3 separate regions of the Homo sapiens genome follow, and all the other regions are linked to region 1. Evidence: fine-mapped expression QTL. A gene starts in region 1. Each other region holds a variant in brackets. All regions are shown on one strand. Distances are between the middles of the regions.

Region 1 (6,094 bases):
TTAGCTTTAGTTTTCTCAAATGAGGCAATGCAATCGGATTAGTTTACTATCATTCAAAAATGGCAGAGTGTATTGAGCACTGTTTGGACACTGGGTTATCACATGATTCAAATCATTTGCTTTGCTTTCATTCCATGTTTAATGTTAATTTTACTCTAGACTTTGCCTGAGCGTCAAACCTATCAGTCTTAGAAAAAATACTCAAAGATTCTGTCTCCTCTACCAACTGCAAAGTGGAAGCAGCACTGGACTCATAATTAGATATAAGCCTTTCATTGAAGTCTGAGTTCTATTGCTTTCTTTTTTATTTTTTATTTTGAGACAGTTTCGCTCTATCACCCAGGCTGGAGTGCAGTGGCGTGATCTCGGCTCACTGCAACTCCACCTCCCAGGCTCAAGCGATTCTCCTGCCTGAGCCTCTTGAGTAGCTGGGATTACAGGTGCGCAACACTACCGCCTGGCTAATTTTTGTAATTTTAGTAGAGATGGGGTTTCACCATGTTGGCCCGGCTGGTCTTTAACTCCTGACTTCAAGTGATCTGCCTGCCTTGGCCTCCCAAAGTGCTGAGATTACAGGCATGAGCCACTGTGCCACTGCACTCCAGCCTGGGTTACAAGAGCGAAACTCCATCTCAAAAAGAAAAAAAAAAAATGGCACATATGTGTGTGTGTGTGTCTATATGTACATGTTCAAGGACATATATTAGTATCCAATAATAAGTTAAAATACTAATATATGCCCTTGAACATGTATAGACACATATATATACACATGTATACATGCACACATATACACACACTTATATACACACATATATACATATATACACACAGATATACATATGTGTATACACACACATATATGAGAACATAAGGTGACTTGCATCATTTACATTCAACAAATGGTCAGTCATTCACTCATCCAGTTCAATCTAATACCTATTTATCATTGGCAAGTGCTGTGCCAGCCTCTAGAACTACAATCGTGGTTAAAACAAAGATCCCGGCCATCCCAGCTTTGAAGACAGGCATTCAATAGTTGCACAAAATAAGTATAAATTATAACCGGTGCTGTGGGAAAAAAGTATAGGGAGTTCCAAGGCCATAAAAACGGGGAGCTAACCTAGTGTGGCAGGGTTAGGAAAGTGATATTTGAGCTGACAGCTGGAAATGACAAGCATCAACAGACAGGTGGCAAAGGTCCAATTCGGGCATTCAATTATTCTCTCCTTAGACATTGATTAAATATATATTGCCTGCTGTGTGGCAGCACTGTGCTGACCATCAGTCTATCTGTCGGACATTTAAAAAAGTTTTTTAAAAAGAGAATGCATGCAACTTCAAGACTTACTGGCAGGATTACTTCTCCAGATGACCTACTGGCAAGCCAACTTCCCAGCTACTGGCTCCACCCTCATCTTAGCTGGAGGGAATGATGAAGGAAGAGGAGGTGGTCTTACACTAATTGAATCATTGCAGCAGCTGTGGATCACGATTCCTTTCTTTCTTGCCTTTTTTTTTTTTTTTTTTTGAGACAGGGTCTCACTATGTCACCCAGGCTGGAGTGCAGTGATGCCCTCACTGCTGAATGCAGCCTCTACCTCCCGGGCTCAAGCAATCCTCTTGCCTCAGCCTCCCAAAGTGCTGAGATTATAGGCGTGAGCCATCATCCCAGGCCGGGGTCTCAATTTCTTTTTTTTTTGTCTTTTTTTTTTTTTTTGAGACGAAGTCTCACTCTGTCACCAGGCCGGAATGCAGTGGCACAATCTCGGCTCACTGCAACCTCTGCCTCCCTGGTTCAAGCGATTCTCCTGCCTCAGCCTCCTGAGTAGCTGGGACTACAGGCGCCTGCCACCACGCCCAGCTAATTTTTGTATTTTTAGTAGAGACGGGGTTTCACCATGTTGGCCAGGATGGTATCGATCTCTTGACCTCGTGATCCGTCCGCCTCGGCCTCCCAAAGTGCTGGGATTGTAGACGTGAGCCACCATCCCAGGCCGGGGTCTCAATTTCTGAAGCCATGCTGAGGGCCATTTTTGGGCGGCACTCTTTCACTCCACTATGTGCCAGGCGCTGTCCCAGAGGCAGGGGGCACAGTGAGGAACAAAACACAAGAGAATCCTGCCATCAGGAAGCTTACACCTGTTAACACATGCAGGTTGGGGAGATAAACGAATAAATTAAAAAATGTAACAGGTAATAAGGAGAAAAGAGTAACATGATGGAATGGGATACTCGGGCCTTGGACAGGCTAGTGAAAAAAATGTTTCTCTGAAGTCAACACTTCGGTGGAAGGTTGAAGGATGAGAAGCCAGCCATGCAACCATAGATGGTGTAGGGGCAGTCTCTGGGAAAGCCTGAAACAGGCTGGAGCTTGCCTTGTTCTAAGCCAGTGAGTCTCAATGGGGGCGTATTTGCCCCCAGGAGTCCTTCGGCAAAGTCTAGAAGACATTTTCGGTTGTTAACCTGAGGTGCTAGGGGGTGGAACTGGCCCCTAGTGGATAGCAGAGGCCAAAGCTGCTGCTGAACATCGTGCAACGCACAGGACAGTCCCGTCGCTCAAAGTGCCAACGATGCACGGGTTGAGAAACCGGGTCCTCTCCAGGACTGAAGCCCAGGGCAGGGAGCACGGGGGCAGCCTGAGCAAACCCGCCTGGAGAGCAGCCGCCGTCTCAGTGTGAGTTTTGGCTGCCTACTGGGCCCCACCGAAGCCCGAAGAGGGCCAGGCTCCGGCTTCTTTGTTTAAACTCCCTTAGTCCGACTGCCTGCAGTGGCTCATGCACGTAATTCCAACACTATGGGAGGCTGAGACGTGAGGAACGCTTGATGCCAGGAGTTCGAGACCAACCTGAGCAACAAAGCGAGACCCCATTTCAAAAAACTGTTTAAAAATTAGCCACAGGCAGCGGCGAGCGCCTGCGGTCCCAGCTACCCGGGAGGCTGAGGTGGGAGGGCCGCTTGATCCTGGGAAGCTGAGGCTGCAGTGAGGCGTAACCGCATGACTGCGCTCCAGCCTGGGCGAGAGAGGGAAACCCTGTCTCAAAAAGGCAAACAAAGGCTCTCGGCCGCCAAGCTGCGGAATCCCAAGCTCCCCAAGACACGCAGTGATCCAGAATACCGGCCACCTCCTCGCCTAGTGCCCGGGGCGGGGCCGGAAGTTCCGGCGAGTGGGGCGTTGAGCAGCGGCGAGCCCGCCCAATAGGGACATCTCAGGCCCGGCAGTCTCGCGAGAAGGGCGGCGGCCCTGGGTTCTGGGACAGGTGACCCGGCGGCGGGGCGAGGCAGCTGGCGGCGTCGCATGGAGGGCTCTGGGGGCGGTGCGGGCGAGCGGGCGCCGCTGCTGGGCGCGCGGCGGGCGGCGGCGGCCGCGGCGGCGGCTGGGGCGTTCGCGGGCCGGCGCGCGGCGTGCGGGGCCGTGCTGCTGACGGAGCTGCTGGAGCGCGCCGCTTTCTACGGCATCACGTCCAACCTGGTGCTATTCCTGAACGGGGCGCCGTTCTGCTGGGAGGGCGCGCAGGCCAGCGAGGCGCTGCTGCTCTTCATGGGCCTCACCTACCTGGGCTCGCCGTTCGGAGGCTGGCTGGCCGACGCGCGGCTGGGCCGGGCGCGCGCCATCCTGCTGAGCCTGGCGCTCTACCTGCTGGGCATGCTGGCCTTCCCGCTGCTGGCCGCGCCCGCCACGCGAGCCGCGCTCTGCGGTTCCGCGCGCCTGCTCAACTGCACGGCGCCTGGTCCCGACGCCGCCGCCCGCTGCTGCTCACCGGCCACCTTCGCGGGGCTGGTGCTGGTGGGCCTGGGCGTGGCCACCGTCAAGGCCAACATCACGCCCTTCGGCGCCGACCAGGTGAGCCGCGCCCCCGCGCGCTGTCCCTGTCCCTGTCCAGCCCCTGCCCAGCCCCAGCCTCTTCCCCTGCCCCAGTCCCTGCCTCTGACCGCGGAGGGAGCCCCTTGCCCCGGGGGGCTTCTGTCTAGTGCCGAGGAATCCCGCCAGCAGGTGGGCCAAGACTGGAGGTACCGGTGTGATGGGTGCTGGAAGGGGTTTGCCTGGGGCGGGGTGAGGTCTACACACACAGTGATGGCCACAGTGGCTTTAAAGAAAAGAGAGGCCGGGCGCGGTGGCTCACGCCTGTAATTCCAGCACTTTGGGAGGCCGAGGCGGGAGGATCTCTTGAGCCCAGGACTTTGAGACCAGGTTGGGCAACACAGTGAGACCTCATCTCTACCAAAATTTAAAAATTTGCCCTCCGTGGAGGCGCACACCTGTAGTCCTAGCAGAGAAAGGAGGATTCCTTGAGCCTACGAGTTTCGGAGGCTGCAGTGAGCTAGGGTCACACCAGTGCACTCTAGCTTGGGTAACAGAGTGAGACCCCACCTCAAAAAAATAAATAAATAAAATTTAAAAAATACGCTGAGCGCAGTGGCTCACGCCTGTAATCCCAACACTTTGGGAGGCCGAGGTGGGTGGATCACCTAAGGTCAGGAGTTCGAGACCAGCCTGACCAGCCTGGCTAAAAATACAAAAATTAGCCGAGCGTGGTGGCGGGCACCTGTTCTCTCAGCTAGTCGGGAGGCTGAGGCAGGAGAATCGCTTGCACCCGGGAGGCAGAGGTGCGATGAGCCGAGATCGCGCCACTCCACTCCTCCAGCCTGAGCGACAGAGCGAGACTCTGTCTCCAAATAAAAATAAATAAATAAATAAAAAATAAATGAACGGGACCCTTCTATGTTCAGGCCCTGTAAGTTCAGACCAGAAGGCTAGGAAAGAGCAGTTGTTTGAGGAGCTTTCCAGACATGGGGATTCGCAGGTGCAGGGCCCTGGGCCAGGAAGCTGAGGGAAGGGGAAGCCCCCGTTGTTGCCTTAGCTTCCTTTACAAAGAAGTGGGAAAACACTCATATTGCGTCTTCGTGGCTTTAAAGGAGTTACGGGCTAGGTTGGGTCGGAAAGCTCAGATGAAAATGAGTTTGAATCAAGTTAGCATCAAGCTGCTCCCCTGCAACTGTAACTGCCAAGAAGTGAGGGAGGAACCACTGCAGCTCTTCAGGAGGGGCAAGGACGTGGCCACCAAGTATTATATGCAGAATAGGCCGCCTTTAAGAGCAATAGCAAAGTCAGATCGTTTCAGAAAATATAAAAAAAAGTGGGAAGTGAGGTGGAAGGCTGGGGCCGGATCATGTGAGGAGTGTTAAAGCGTTGGGGATACAGTCGAGAGCTTTACTGGGTTCCAGCAGGGAGTGATTTGTGCAGAGCAGGCACTACAGCTGGGGTAGCAGGTCAGGTCTGCTTCTTATTTTCTGAGGATTCACAAGCTAAGAATGGTTCTTAATATTTTCTTTCTTTCTTTTTTTTTTTTTTTTTTGAGGCGGAGTCTCGCTCTGTTGCCAGGTTGGAGTGCAGTGGCGCGATCTCAGCTCACTGCAACCTTCACCTCCTGAGTTCAAGCGATTCTCCTGCCTCGGCCTCCTGAGTAGTTGAGACTACACGTGCACGCCACTGTGCCCAGCTAACTTTTGTATTTCTAGTAGAGACGGGGTTTCACCGTGTTGGCCAGGATGGTCTTGATCTCTTGACCTTGTGATCTGCCTGCCTCGGCCTCCCAAAGTGCTGGGGTTACAGGCATGAGCCACGGCGCCCAGCTAGTTCTTACATTTTTAAGTGGTCGGAAACGGGATCATTTGTGACCAGTGAAAATTTTATGAAAATCAAATTTCAATCTCCATAAATAAAGCGTTATTGGAACATAGCCCCACCTGTTTCTGCAACACAGCCACTACACTGGGGCTGCTTTCACTAAGCAGTGGCAGAATTGAGTAACTGTGATGGAGACGAGATGTCTCATAGAACTCAAAATGTGAACTGCCTGCCCCTTCACAGAAGTGTGCGGATGCTTGTAGAGAATGGGTTGTGTAGGAAGTGGTGACATTAGGGACATGAGGTGGGAGTCTCTCCTAACTAGAGTGGAGGCAGTGGAGGTGGGTGAAGTGGATGGATGGAGTTCAGCTATGGAAGTAGAATGGGCAGGAAGTACTGGCAGGTTGTCTCCCTGTTTGTGTTCCTATGTAGGAATACCTGAGGCTCAGTCATCTATAATGGAAA
Region 2 (5,601 bases), 29 kb before region 1:
TTACCCTATATGTTCTGGAAAGGGGAGGTGTGAATAATCCACTCCTTGTTTAGCATATCATCAAGAAATAACCATAAAAATGGACAACCAAGGCCAGGCGAAGTTGCTCATGCCTGTAATCCTAGCACTTTGGGAGGCCAAGACCAAAGGATCACGTGAGGTCAGGAGTTCGAGACCAGCCTGGCCAACATGGTGAAACCCTGTCTCTACTAAAAATACAAAAATCAGCTGGGTGTGGTGGCAGGCGCCTGTAATCCCAGCTACTCCGGAAGGTAAGGCAGGAGAATCGCTGGAACCGGGGGGCAGAGGTTGCAGTGAGCTGAGACCCCGCCATTGCACTCCAGCCTGGGCGAAAGAATGAAGCTTTGTCTCAAAAAAAAAAAAAAAAAAAAAAAAGGCAACCAGCAGCCCTTGGGGCTGCTCTGTCTATGGAGTAGCCAGTCTTTTATTTTTTTACTTTCTTAATAAACTTGCTTTCACTTTAAGGACTCGCCCTGAATTCTTGCTTGTGCAAGATCCAAGAACCCTCTATCGGGTTCTGGATCAGGACCTCTTTCCGTTAACAGTTTTGTTTTATTTTTTAGAGTTTTGATCTGCCACCCAGGCTGGAGTTCAGTGGTGCAATGTCACTTCGCTGCAGCCTCAACCTCCTGGGCTCAACTGATCCTCCTGCCTCAGCCTCCTGAGTAGCTAGGACCACAGGCATGCACACACCACATCAGCTAATTTTTAAATTTTTTTTTGTAGAGATGAGGGTTTCACCATGTTGCCCATGCTGGTCTTTAACTCCTGGGCTCAAGCAATCCTCCCATCTCAGCCTCCCAAAGTGCTGGGATTACAGGCTTGAGCCGCCATGAAAGCCTGCCCTAGGTTTTTTGTTTTTTTTGTTGTTGTTGTTGTTTTTTTTTTTTTTTTTTTTAGATGGAGTCTGGCTCTGTCACCCAGGCTAGAGTGCAGTGGCGTGATCCCAGATCAATTGGCTCACTGCAACAGCTGCCTCCCAGGTTCAAGCGATTCTCCTGCCTCAGCCTCCTAGTTTTGCTTTCTTAATAGCACTAATCCCTATGTGAAATCACCTCCTTCATTCCTCTCCCATACTGGGATGCTGGTTCATCCAACAGAGCCAGGAACACAAAGGGCTCCTCACTGCTAAACCCAAGCAGAGCATCACTGACCTATTTAATAGAAACCTGCACCATGAAACCTGAGTGTAAATTTTCCAGCAAATTTCAGAAAACTGATGGATCCTCTCTTGGTCATTTCTGCTTATGATCTTTAGGAGAAATTAGCTGAAAGGGACATGAAAGTGTTGGTGGAGTCTCAATTGCTCATTTTAATGATGAGGAGGCCGGGCACAGTGGCTCATACCTGTAAACCCAGCACTGTGGGAGGCCGAGGCAGGCGGATCACCTGAGGGCAGGAGTTCGAGACCAACCTGGCCAACATGGTGAAACCCTGTCTCTATTAAAAATACAAAAATCAGCCGGGCGTGGTGGTGCACACCTGTAATCCCAACTACTTGGGAGGCTGAGGCAGGAGAATGCTTGAATCCAGGAGGCGGAGGTTGCAGTGAGCCCAGATTGCGCCACTGCACTCCAGCCTGGGTGACACAGCGAGACTCCATTTCAAAAAAATAAATTGATGGGGAAACAGGCCCACAGAAGGGAAGTAAATCGGGAAATTTCATGAAGCAAGTCCGCTTTTACACACACACACACACACACACACACACACACACACACACACACGGCTTCTGTTAAGCTGCAGGCTCTAATCCTGGCACTTCCCAGGCTTCGCCTCAAGGAATATGTTTATCCGGCTAATACAGGCCGAGCGCCCGCTGTGCGGGTGGGAGGCGGCGGGATTAACGCGGCGGCCCCTCCCCGGGCCCCCGCCGGGCTTGCGTTCCAGCGACCAGAACACAGACCAACAAGTAAACAAATAAGACAAAGGCAGAAAAAGATGAGTGTGAAGGAGCTAACCAGCCAGGAAGACGAGAATAGACAGGGCAGAGGGGAGGTGGGAAAGGGACTTCGGGGACAGGACCCCGGACGCCGGCACACAGCCGAGACCCGATCCGCGAGGGCAGGGCTGGCACCGCGGTCCCCGGCCTGGAAACGCGCCCCCGCCGGGAGCTCCGCGGACCCCGCTGCGCATCCCTGCGGATCCTGCTCCCATCCTGCTTCTGCAGCGAGGCCTTCCCGGGCCCCTCCACGACAGGCTCCGGGCCTGTTCACCTGCTCAGTCCCCTCCGGAGAGCGCGAGGCCAATGCGCCGGCCGCACGGAGACCCGGGGACACGCGCGCCACGCAGAAGGCACCGACCCCCGCGCGCCCGGCAGGCGGCACCGGCCCATCCGTTTGTGCGCGCGGCTCGGGACGGCCCCGGCGCGGCTGGAGGGGGCCTGGCTGAGCGCCCCGCGTCCCCGGGTCCCGCGTCCCCGCCCCCCGGCCCCCGGCCCAGGCTTCGTAGGCCCCGGCGCCCTGCACCTACCGAACGCGCTGGGCCGTGACCGCGTTGCCGGTGTGTGGCCGCAGCACCGCCAGGAACAGGAGCCGCATGCCGCCGCCGCCGCCCGGGCCATCGACCGGCCCCGCCGCCGCCGACCAGGCCCCGGGGCCGGCGCAGACGCGGACGGCGGGGGAGCCGGGGCGGCTGGGTCTGTCCCGCCCGCCCCTCCCCGAGGCCGCGCCCCAGCTCGCAGGTTCCGGCGCCAGGCGGGGAGGGGGACAGGAACCGGGGGC[C/G]TCGGGCGGCGCGAGCCCTGGGTGCGGGGTGGCGCGGGTGTGCCCCGTGGGGTCCATCACCAGGGTAGCCGCGGTCTGTTTCCACCTGGACCAGGACCAGCGGTGACCACAGTCCCTTCCACGGGGACCAGGACCATCGGTGACCACAGTCCCTCACACGGGGACCAGGACCAGCGGTGACCACAGTCCCTCCCAAGAGGACTAGGACCAGCAGTGACCACGTTCCCTTCCACAGGGAACAGGCAGCGGTGACCACAGACCATTCTCACGGGGACCAGGACCAGCGGTGACCACAGTCCCTCCCAAGGGGACCAGGACCAGCGGTGACCACAGTCCCTTCCCACAGTGACCAGGACCAGGGGCGGCCTTGGTCCTTTCCCACAGGGAACAGGAGCAGGGGTGGCCATGGTCCGCTCCCATGGAAACCAGTGATGGCTTCCATGGGCTTCATTGGGAAATCAGGGCTTCACGGAACACCGGGTTGGCTGCAGGTCTGTGCCCACCGGGACCAGCAGAGACCTCGGGTTCCGTCCCACAGGGTGCTGCAGAGAGGGGCTCTCAGCCTCATTTTCCATGACAACCTGAGTGGGGCCTTGGTCCGCACGAAGCCCAGGATTCCTTTCTAGTCCCATTCCAGGGAACGTGGCATGATCAGTCCCAAATTCCTTCCCAGGCTAGACTACCCTAAAACTAACCCGAGGAGGGGAACATGGGGACTGTGTGAGGAGACAGTAGAAACCCATTTCAGGGCCGCACCTGTCGGGTGAGAAAGATGTTGGAGAGGGGAACCTGGGGTTCATCAGGGTACATGGGCTGCACCTGGTCTGGATCTCCAAACTAGGATACCTTGAGTGAGAGAAATAGGGAACTGAAGGAGGCCTCTGGCAAAATGCCATCTGTGGATTTAAACAAGCACTCCCCAAAACAGCTGTTAAGTGTTTACAAAGATGCACATGTATTTACAGATGTGGGACATTCTAGTGGGTGCCCAATATTTCCATTGACCTTCAAACTTGATTTTCTGTCATCCCCTAAATACCTTCCAGCCTCAAAAAGGTAAAGTGGGAATGAAGAAAGCCATGACATGGGATAACCACCGTCAGTGGCAGGTCTCCGGCCTCCCTACGCAGCATGGTGACCCCCAGGCTTATCAAGATATAAAAGTCCATCCTGGAGGGCACATTCGGCTCCGCAGGCTTCTCCCAGGTACGTCCACCACTCTGCCTCTCAGTGTGGCATGGAGTAGGGAAGAGTTGTATATCATTGTAGAACAATCAAAATCCTGTCCTCCTCTCACTCTCAAAAAAACACCCAGGATTTTGCTCTTCTTCCTGGTATTTCAGCTTCCCAGGCACCAGGCAGGCAGGCCACATCCTTTTTAAAGGACAAAAGCGATCTGAAAATATTATCATTCTGCTAAACAACTTAATACTTTCCAACAGAATTACATAAGCAAACAGGAAAGGGGACAAGTTGCACAGAGCTGTCACAACCCCCTTCTAACGACATTTTAGAAAAAGAGTTTTGACCCCGGGCACGGCGGCTGACTCCTATAATTCCAGCACTTTGGGAGGCCGAGGTGGGTGGATCACTTGAGGCCAGGAGTTCAAGACCAGTCTGGCCAACATGGCAAAACCCCGTCTCTACCAAAAATAGAAAAATAGATGGGCATGGTGGTACAAGCCTGTAGTCCTAGGTACTTGGGAGGCTGAGGCATGAGAATCATTTGAACCCAGGAGGCGGAGGTTGCAGTGAGCCGCGATCATGCCACTGCGCTCCAGCCTAGGCAGTAAAGCAAGACTCAGTGTTAAATAAATAAATAAGTTTTGAGTGGACTCCTGATATATTTGCTACACACCAAGAAGAGGCAATAAAACGCAGTGTCTGGTGTGGTATACAGAAGTAGAGGGGGGCACTTGCCCATGATCTTCCCCTATTTCACCTTGCCCATGGGATATTAAAAGCTAAATGTGAACAGATACATTTCTGATTTTACAAAGGCGACTTCAGCATGAGCCCAGAAAGGAACCTCCCTAAGGAGAGTTGAACTGGCAGCCTTGTGGGCTCAATATCATCCTTAGATGTATTTAGGCTACACCGTGTTTTTCATAAAAGCTGAGCTATTATTTTTTGTTTGTTTTGAGACAGTGTCACTCTGTCATCCAGGCTGGGGGTGCCGTGGTGTGATTATGGATCACTCCAGCTTCCACCTCCTGGGCTCAAGTGATCCTCCCATCTCAGCCTTCCAAAAAAGTAGCTGGAACCATAGATGTGCACCACCATGCTGGGCTAATTTTTTGTATTTTTTGTAGAAGTGGGGTCTCACTATGTTGTCCAGGCTGGTCTTGAGCTCCTGGGCTCAAGCAGTCAACTCACCTCAGCCTCCCAGAGTACTGGAATTACAGGCGTGAGCCACTATACCTGGCCAAGCCACCATTTTTTAATTGGGAGCTTTCATATAGAAGTTGGAATTTCTGATATCTGTTAAAAAATGAGAGATCTGATTAAATGAAGCCACCATCCTGTGGCTGACTGAAGCTGGGAAGCAGCTGCCTGCTTAAGATGAAATCTGAATGTGCCATTTCACACAGTGCTTGAAGGCTCACTTCAATTCCTTGATAACCTCGATCTGTATTCTTGTGTTTAGAAAAAATTTGAAGTTTATTTTTACGTAAATTAAGTTCAGAAGAAGGTGGCCCAAGCCTAATATAGTGGCTGTACCATCACCAGGAACCCAGACTTTCCTCTGTCTACTCCATCATGCTAGTGTTTAGCTTCTAGTCTCAAGATCACCTTATCAAGGAATTGATAAGGAGTAGGACTGCTACAGCTCCACCCATCACATCAACATTCCAGG
Region 3 (6,094 bases), 81 kb before region 1:
ATGAAGTTAACACAATCCGGCCAGGCGCGGGGACTCACACCTGTAATCCCAGCACTTTCGGAGGCTGCAGTGAGCTGAGATCGCACCACTGCACTCCAGCGTGGGGGACAGAACAAGACTCGTCTAAAAAATAAATAGTTAAATAAATTTAAAAGAACAACCCGTGACCCTTCACAAAATAAAAGGATGAGAGTGTGGCACCCCATCTACTGGGGCGACTCAAGAAACAGGAACATCAACAGGAAATTTCCAGAGAAGATTTTTGTTTTTTTAAACAATTAAATGTATGGAGTAAACAACTCAGAATGATTGTTCATTTTATTCAGAAGATTCCCCTACCATGCTCTGCCTGGGCAATTTAATGAATTACAAACAATACTTGTGATGGTACCACACATTTGAGCCCCGGGTCATGGAAAAAGTAAACTCAAGATCTATGCTCTGGAATGGATGCGTTTTTCATACTTCTGAGTTCCTTTCAAACTTCTCAATTCCCAGGGATCTCACATGGGGGCAAACAAACAAACAAAAAAACCCACACAGACATAAAGAACATTTGCAGTTCCATCCAGAAATCTCCAATGAGGGCTCACCTTCATAGAAGCTATTAAAAATGATTAGTGGCGGGGCACGGTGGCTTACGCCTGTAATCCCAGCACTTTGGGAGGCTGAGGCGGGTGGATCACAAGATCAGGAGATCAAGACCAGCCTGGCTAACACGGTGAAACCTCGTCTCTACTAAATATACAAAAAATTAGCTGGGTGTGGTGGCGGGCACCTGTAGTCCCAGCTACTCGGGAGGCTGAGGCAGGAGAATGGCGTGAACCCGGGAGGCAGAGCTTGCAGTGAGCCGAGATCACGCCACTGTGCTCCAGCCTGGGCAACAAAGCGAGACTCGGTCTCAAAAAAAAAAAAAAAAAAAAGATTAGCTTCCTGGGACATGATCAATCCCTGGAGCTTCTCCTGCAGAGGTGAGAGGGTTGGCACAGAAAAGAGGTAGTCTAGAGGTGAAACCCACGTGTTCAATGCATTTTTATGTTTCCAGGAGGGTGGGAACTCTAATAAAAGGTATGGTCTGTGTAGTTTCAGCTGCTGCCAAGATGACTTTCCGAGGTAATCAGACATAAAGCAATGGGGCCATGCAGGAAGAGGGAGAAGTAATAAGTAGCTCAAAAGACAGCATGCTTCTACTGCAGACTTTAGGGATAAGGAGACACGCAGCTCATTCCGATTAGGCCAGCGCTAACATCTGCACTGACTTGTGGAGCTCACCTGTACAGGAACTGCACTTGTGACAGCCAATGAGATCTGTCTTGCTTTCTATATTTTAATTTCCAAAAGAATTTTGATGAGTAAATGTACACAAAGTAAAATTACACTTTAGGTTTTGCCTAACACAGCAACTTGAAGAAGTTACTTTTCTTTCACAAGTGCCAAGGCAAAGTAGATAAATTAGGCCCCAGAAGGGGGTGACTCAAAGTTTCCAGAAAAAAAAAAGAAAAAAAAAAAAAGAAAAACCTCACTCTAAAGATAACACCTGAAAACTTAGCCTTTGCAAAGCATATTGATGGGCCATTATGAATGACACTGTGCTTTTTTTTGTTTGAATTTGATAACTGCTTCAAGCAATATTTACTCAAACAGGATTTTTTAAATATAGCTCATAAATAAATATTTGAGTTTAGATAATGTCCTCTTAGAAGAATGCTTATTAGGAAAAGAGTGTGAAAACAGGCATGAGGGGTTTTGAGCCCAATGGAGACATATTAAACCATAACCATTGCTTCTCCTGGTAGAAGCGTCCATTAAGATACACATTTAATTTGTTCGTGGGTGTTTTTTTCTTCTTGGTGAAATTTTTACATTTTCTGGTGAAATTCTGATGAATTTAGACAAAGCGCTCTAAACGTGGACTAGAACTAGAAGTACTCAAGTTTGCATCCTGAATATCTATTACATATTGTAGCAAGAAATCAAAATCCTACATAAAATATTTTCAAACTTCCCACAACATATATTTCAGGATCAGAAATGTGAAATGAATCAAATTCTTGAAAATGTCAAATCAATATTATAATATCAGAAACTGGCCAGCACAGACGCTCACGCCTGTAATTCTAGCATTTTAGGAGGTTGATGCAGGAGAACTACTTGAGGCCAGGAGTTCAAGAGTAGCCTGGGCAACGCAGTGAGACCTTATCTCCACAAAAAAAAAAAAGTCAAAATTTCAGCCAGGTGTGGTGGCATGGGCCTGTAGTCCCAGCTACCCAGGAGGCTGAGGGGGAGAGGATCGTCTGAGCCCACGAGTTTGAGGCTGCAGTGAGCCACGATCACGCCACTGCACTCCATCCAGCCTGGGCAACAGAGTGAGACTCCTTTAATAAAGAAAAAAAAAAAACACTTAAAAGATATATTATAATATCACAAACCAACATAGTAATGCCATCCCAAAACATAACCTACGTTGATCACGCGTGCTAGGCATTAACAGCCTAGCATGCTGACCTGGTGAGGAGCCCACTAGGATTGTATATTTTACAAAGTAGGTACAATGTCAAATTAAGGCTGATATAAACAACACTAAAAAATAATGACTTGAGCATAAACAAAGGCATTTCAAATTAAAAGAGATAAAACCGTCTTTACTGAAATCCAATCAAACTAACTTGTGAAGGTCAGCCAGAGATAGGTAGGCGATCATAAACCCAGCTCCCAAGACAACATTTCCACAAGAGCAGCCCTGGGGGCTGAAGTTCACTCACCGGTTACAAACTAACCCTCACTGGGCACATGTCCGTTCATGTGTCCTCCAGGATCAGATATCGTGTGAGTAAGTTTCAGAAATCCTGAAACAGAGCTGCCCTGAGCACACAACAGCCCTCGCCACACGTGGCCACGTGGCTGATCCAGGGCACGTCTAAGGCCCTGTTTGAATTAAGATGTGCTGTGAGTGTAAAATACACACAGGATTTCAAAGACTTCACACACAAAAAGGTAAAATATGATGTCACTAGTAACTTTCATATTGATGACATATAGTGGGTGTGTACTAGGAAATTCGGCCTTGACCAAACAGAGGCATGACCTGCACCCTTAGCTTCTGGGAAACGGCGTAAGTGGTGTAATACCTGACAGCTGAGTGTTTAGGGTGGGAAATGGGCCAGGCGCGGTGGCTCATGCCTGTAATCCCAGCCTTTTGGGAGGATGAGGTGGGCAGATCACTTGAGGTCAGGAGTTCGAGACCAGCCTGGCCAACATGGTGAAACCCAGTCTCTATTAAAAATACAAAAATTAGCCAGGCATAGTGGCAGTC[A/G]CCTGTAATCCCAGCACTTTGGGAGGCCGAGGCAGGTGGATCGCCTGAGGTTGGGAGTTCAAGACCAGCCTGGCCAACATGGTGAAACCCCATCTCTATTCAAAATACAGAAATTAGTTGGGTGTGGTGGTGGGCATCTGTAATCCCAGCTACTTGGGAAGCTGAGGCAGGAGAATCGCTTGAATCCGGGAGCCGCAGGTTGCGGTGAGCCGAGATCGCACTACTGCACTCCAGCATGGGCAACAGAGAAAGACTCTGTCTCAAAAAAAAAAAAAAAAAAAAAAAAAAAAGACTGTTTTCATGCTTTAACCATCACCTGGACACCAGTGACTCACATGGCTGTGTCCCCAACTGTGCCCTCCTCTGAGGACAGTCCTACATTCTCAGCTCTATTCTGGATATTTACCCGAGTCCAATATTTGTCACTAAGTCAATACATCCAGAACCAAATGATTCAGTTCCTCTCTTTTTCCCCCTCCAAATTCTATTCCTTGATTTCTTCCAAACTGTATTGATAAAAATGTTAGGTTGTATGAACGCTCTTAAACCCCTCTTTATTTCTTCCTTACTGACTGTGGTCTGCCAATACAAAAGTTACCTGTACCACTGTGTTTATGTTTTTTAAAAAAAGTCTTTATCAAAGTACATTTGCAGGTAAAATGGCACATAATTATAGGTGAAATGGCATGATATTGGTAATTTTTGAAATTATTCTCGAAAACATTGTATGTGTGTGTGTGAGTGTAGGTGTGTGTGTGTATTCAGGAGGAAGTAGAGTAAATAAGAATTGAGGAACAATAAACTGGGTCATGGGCACATAAAGGGCTCACTCTACTATTCTTGCTACTTCTACACATGCCTGAAAATTTCTTTAATTAAAAGTTCTGGCCGGGCACAGTGGCTCATGCCTGTATCCCAGCACTTTGGGAGGCCAAGGCGGGCGGATCACATGGTCAGGAGTTCGAGACCAGCCTGGCCAACATGGTGAAACCCCGTCTCTACCAAAAATACAAAAATTAGCTGGGCATGATGGCGGGAGCCTGTAATCCCAGCTACTCAGGAGGCTGAGGCAGGAGAATAGCTTGAACTTGGGAGGCAGAGGTTGCAGTGAGCTGAGATTGCGCCACTGTACTTCACCTTGGGTGACAGAGCAAGATTCCATCTCAAAAAATAAAAATAAAAATATTTAAAAAAACCAAAAGGTTCTAAAGGAGGAGTCGTTCCTAATCAATCAATTTAAAGGATATTCACCGGGCCTGAGACAGTATATACTATTCTCCAGGGATGCACGAGTGACTACCTCATGTCCCTTTCTCAAGAAGCTCACCACTTGAGAAGCACGGGGAAGAAAGTAAAACATGTTATACTCATTAGAGACAAGCATGAAGTGTGGCAGATGGTTACAGAGGCCATCAATTCTCCCCCTCCCTGCATCCGTGCCCTTGTAAGGCAGCATTAAAGATCCTCTCATTATGAGGTGGGGACCGTATCTCCACCCGCTGAGTTGCTTTGGTCAATGGGAAGGAGGCAAGCTTATCACAGGCAGAGGCCTGGAATGTGCTTGTGAGTTGAGGCCCGTTCTCTCTTCCTGCCGAGCCTAAAACAGGATGACAGACCCCATGGAGACAGGCCTCAGGGGTCCCCACCATCCCAGCTAAGGTCCAGGCATGGAAGTGAGGCCACCCTGCGTGTTTAAGGCAACTGGTTTGTTAAGCAGCAAAAGGTAACTGACAGAGGAAGGGAACTCATCTATGCCAATTCTGGAGGGTCAAGGAAGGATTTATGGTGGAGGATGATATTGAAGGCTGACAAGTTAGAGAAAAGGGCAATGAATTCATGGAAAAGGAGCATGCTTCCACAGGTAAAATATTTCTTTCTTTTTTTTTTTTTTTGAGACGGAGTCTTGCAGTGGCACCATCTCTGTTCACTTCAACCTCGGCCTCCTGGGTTCAAGCAATTCTCTTGCCTCAGCCTCCTGAGTAGCTGGGACTACAGGTGCACACCACCATGCCCGGCTAATTTTTTGCATTTTCAGTAGAGACAGGGTTTCGTCATGTTGGCCAGGCTGGTCTTGAACTCTTGACCTCAGGTGATCTGCCCGCCTCAGCCTCCCAAAGTGCTGGGATTACAGGTTGAGCCACTGCGCCTGGCAATTATTTCTTTAATGTCTGTCTTAACCAACACAGTTGGGTTCCCACGTTTGCTGTTTCATTTAATTTGTTGCAATATGTTGTTTTGGTTGAGGTCTATAAAGAAAATCCTGCCTCTTGCAGACAGGTAGTAGGAAAAGAAAGAGTATTTTAATGGCCTTTCCGATCACTGTAGGCATTGTTCTTGGACACTGCACCCAAACTCAGCAAGTGGCAATTTCTTAAAGTTTAGCTGCATCAGGGAACTTTTCTTTTTTTCTTTCTTTTTTTTTTTTTTGAGACAGAATTTTTGCTCTTCTTGCCCTGGCTGGAGTGCAATGGTACAATCTCGGCTCACTGCAACCTCCACCTTCTGGGTTCAAGCGATTCTCCTGCCTCAGCCTCCCGAAAGTAGCTGGGATTACAGGCACGCACCACCATGCCTGGCTAATTTTGTATTTTTAGTAGAGTCGGGGTTTCTCCATGTTGGTCAGGCTGGTCTCGAACTCCTGACCTCAGGTGATCCGCCCACCTCGGCCTCCCAAAGTGCTGGGATTACAGGCATGAGCCACTGCACCTGGCCGAACTTTTCATACTCAGTTATATTAAAGTCCATTGGTCTACCTGGTACTATGAACTGATCTTTCATCTG

What was found. PIP is the estimated chance that this variant, and not a neighbour inherited with it, causes the effect.
Region 2: its variant is the best candidate, but not a certain one, in a credible set for the expression of SLC15A4 in whole blood (TOPMed, PIP 0.52).
Region 3: its variant is the best candidate, but not a certain one, in a credible set for the expression of SLC15A4 in liver (GTEx, PIP 0.51).

The regions. Positions count from the first base shown.
Region 1 is chr12:128,821,148-128,827,241 of GRCh38, reverse strand. It overlaps SLC15A4 (solute carrier family 15 member 4), which reads left to right and starts at 3,284. Exons shown (of 8, transcript NM_145648.4): 1 at 3,284-3,844. The coding sequence starts at 3,299. It overlaps LOC124903083 (a long non-coding RNA gene), which reads right to left and starts at 3,298. Exons shown (of 2, transcript XR_007063602.1): 1 at 1,352-3,298. RefSeq lists enhancers at 3,374-3,533, 5,014-5,093, 5,154-5,273.
Region 2 is chr12:128,850,542-128,856,142 of GRCh38, reverse strand. It overlaps GLT1D1 (glycosyltransferase 1 domain containing 1), which reads right to left and starts at 2,665. Exons shown (of 12, transcript NM_001366886.1): 1 at 2,494-2,665. The coding sequence starts at 2,561. It overlaps LOC100128276 (a long non-coding RNA gene), which reads left to right and starts at 3,048. Exons shown (of 3, transcript NR_148996.1): 1 at 3,048-3,067; 2 at 3,791-3,950. RefSeq lists an enhancer at 1,684-2,335 and silencers at 2,197-2,396, 2,587-2,686. The variant C/G (reference allele first, on the strand shown) is at 2,745.
Region 3 is chr12:128,902,133-128,908,226 of GRCh38, reverse strand. All of the region lies in intron 4 of GLT1D1 (glycosyltransferase 1 domain containing 1), which reads right to left. Among named protein-coding and RNA genes, the nearest start is that of GLT1D1, 52 kb to the right of the region's middle. The variant A/G (reference allele first, on the strand shown) is at 3,314.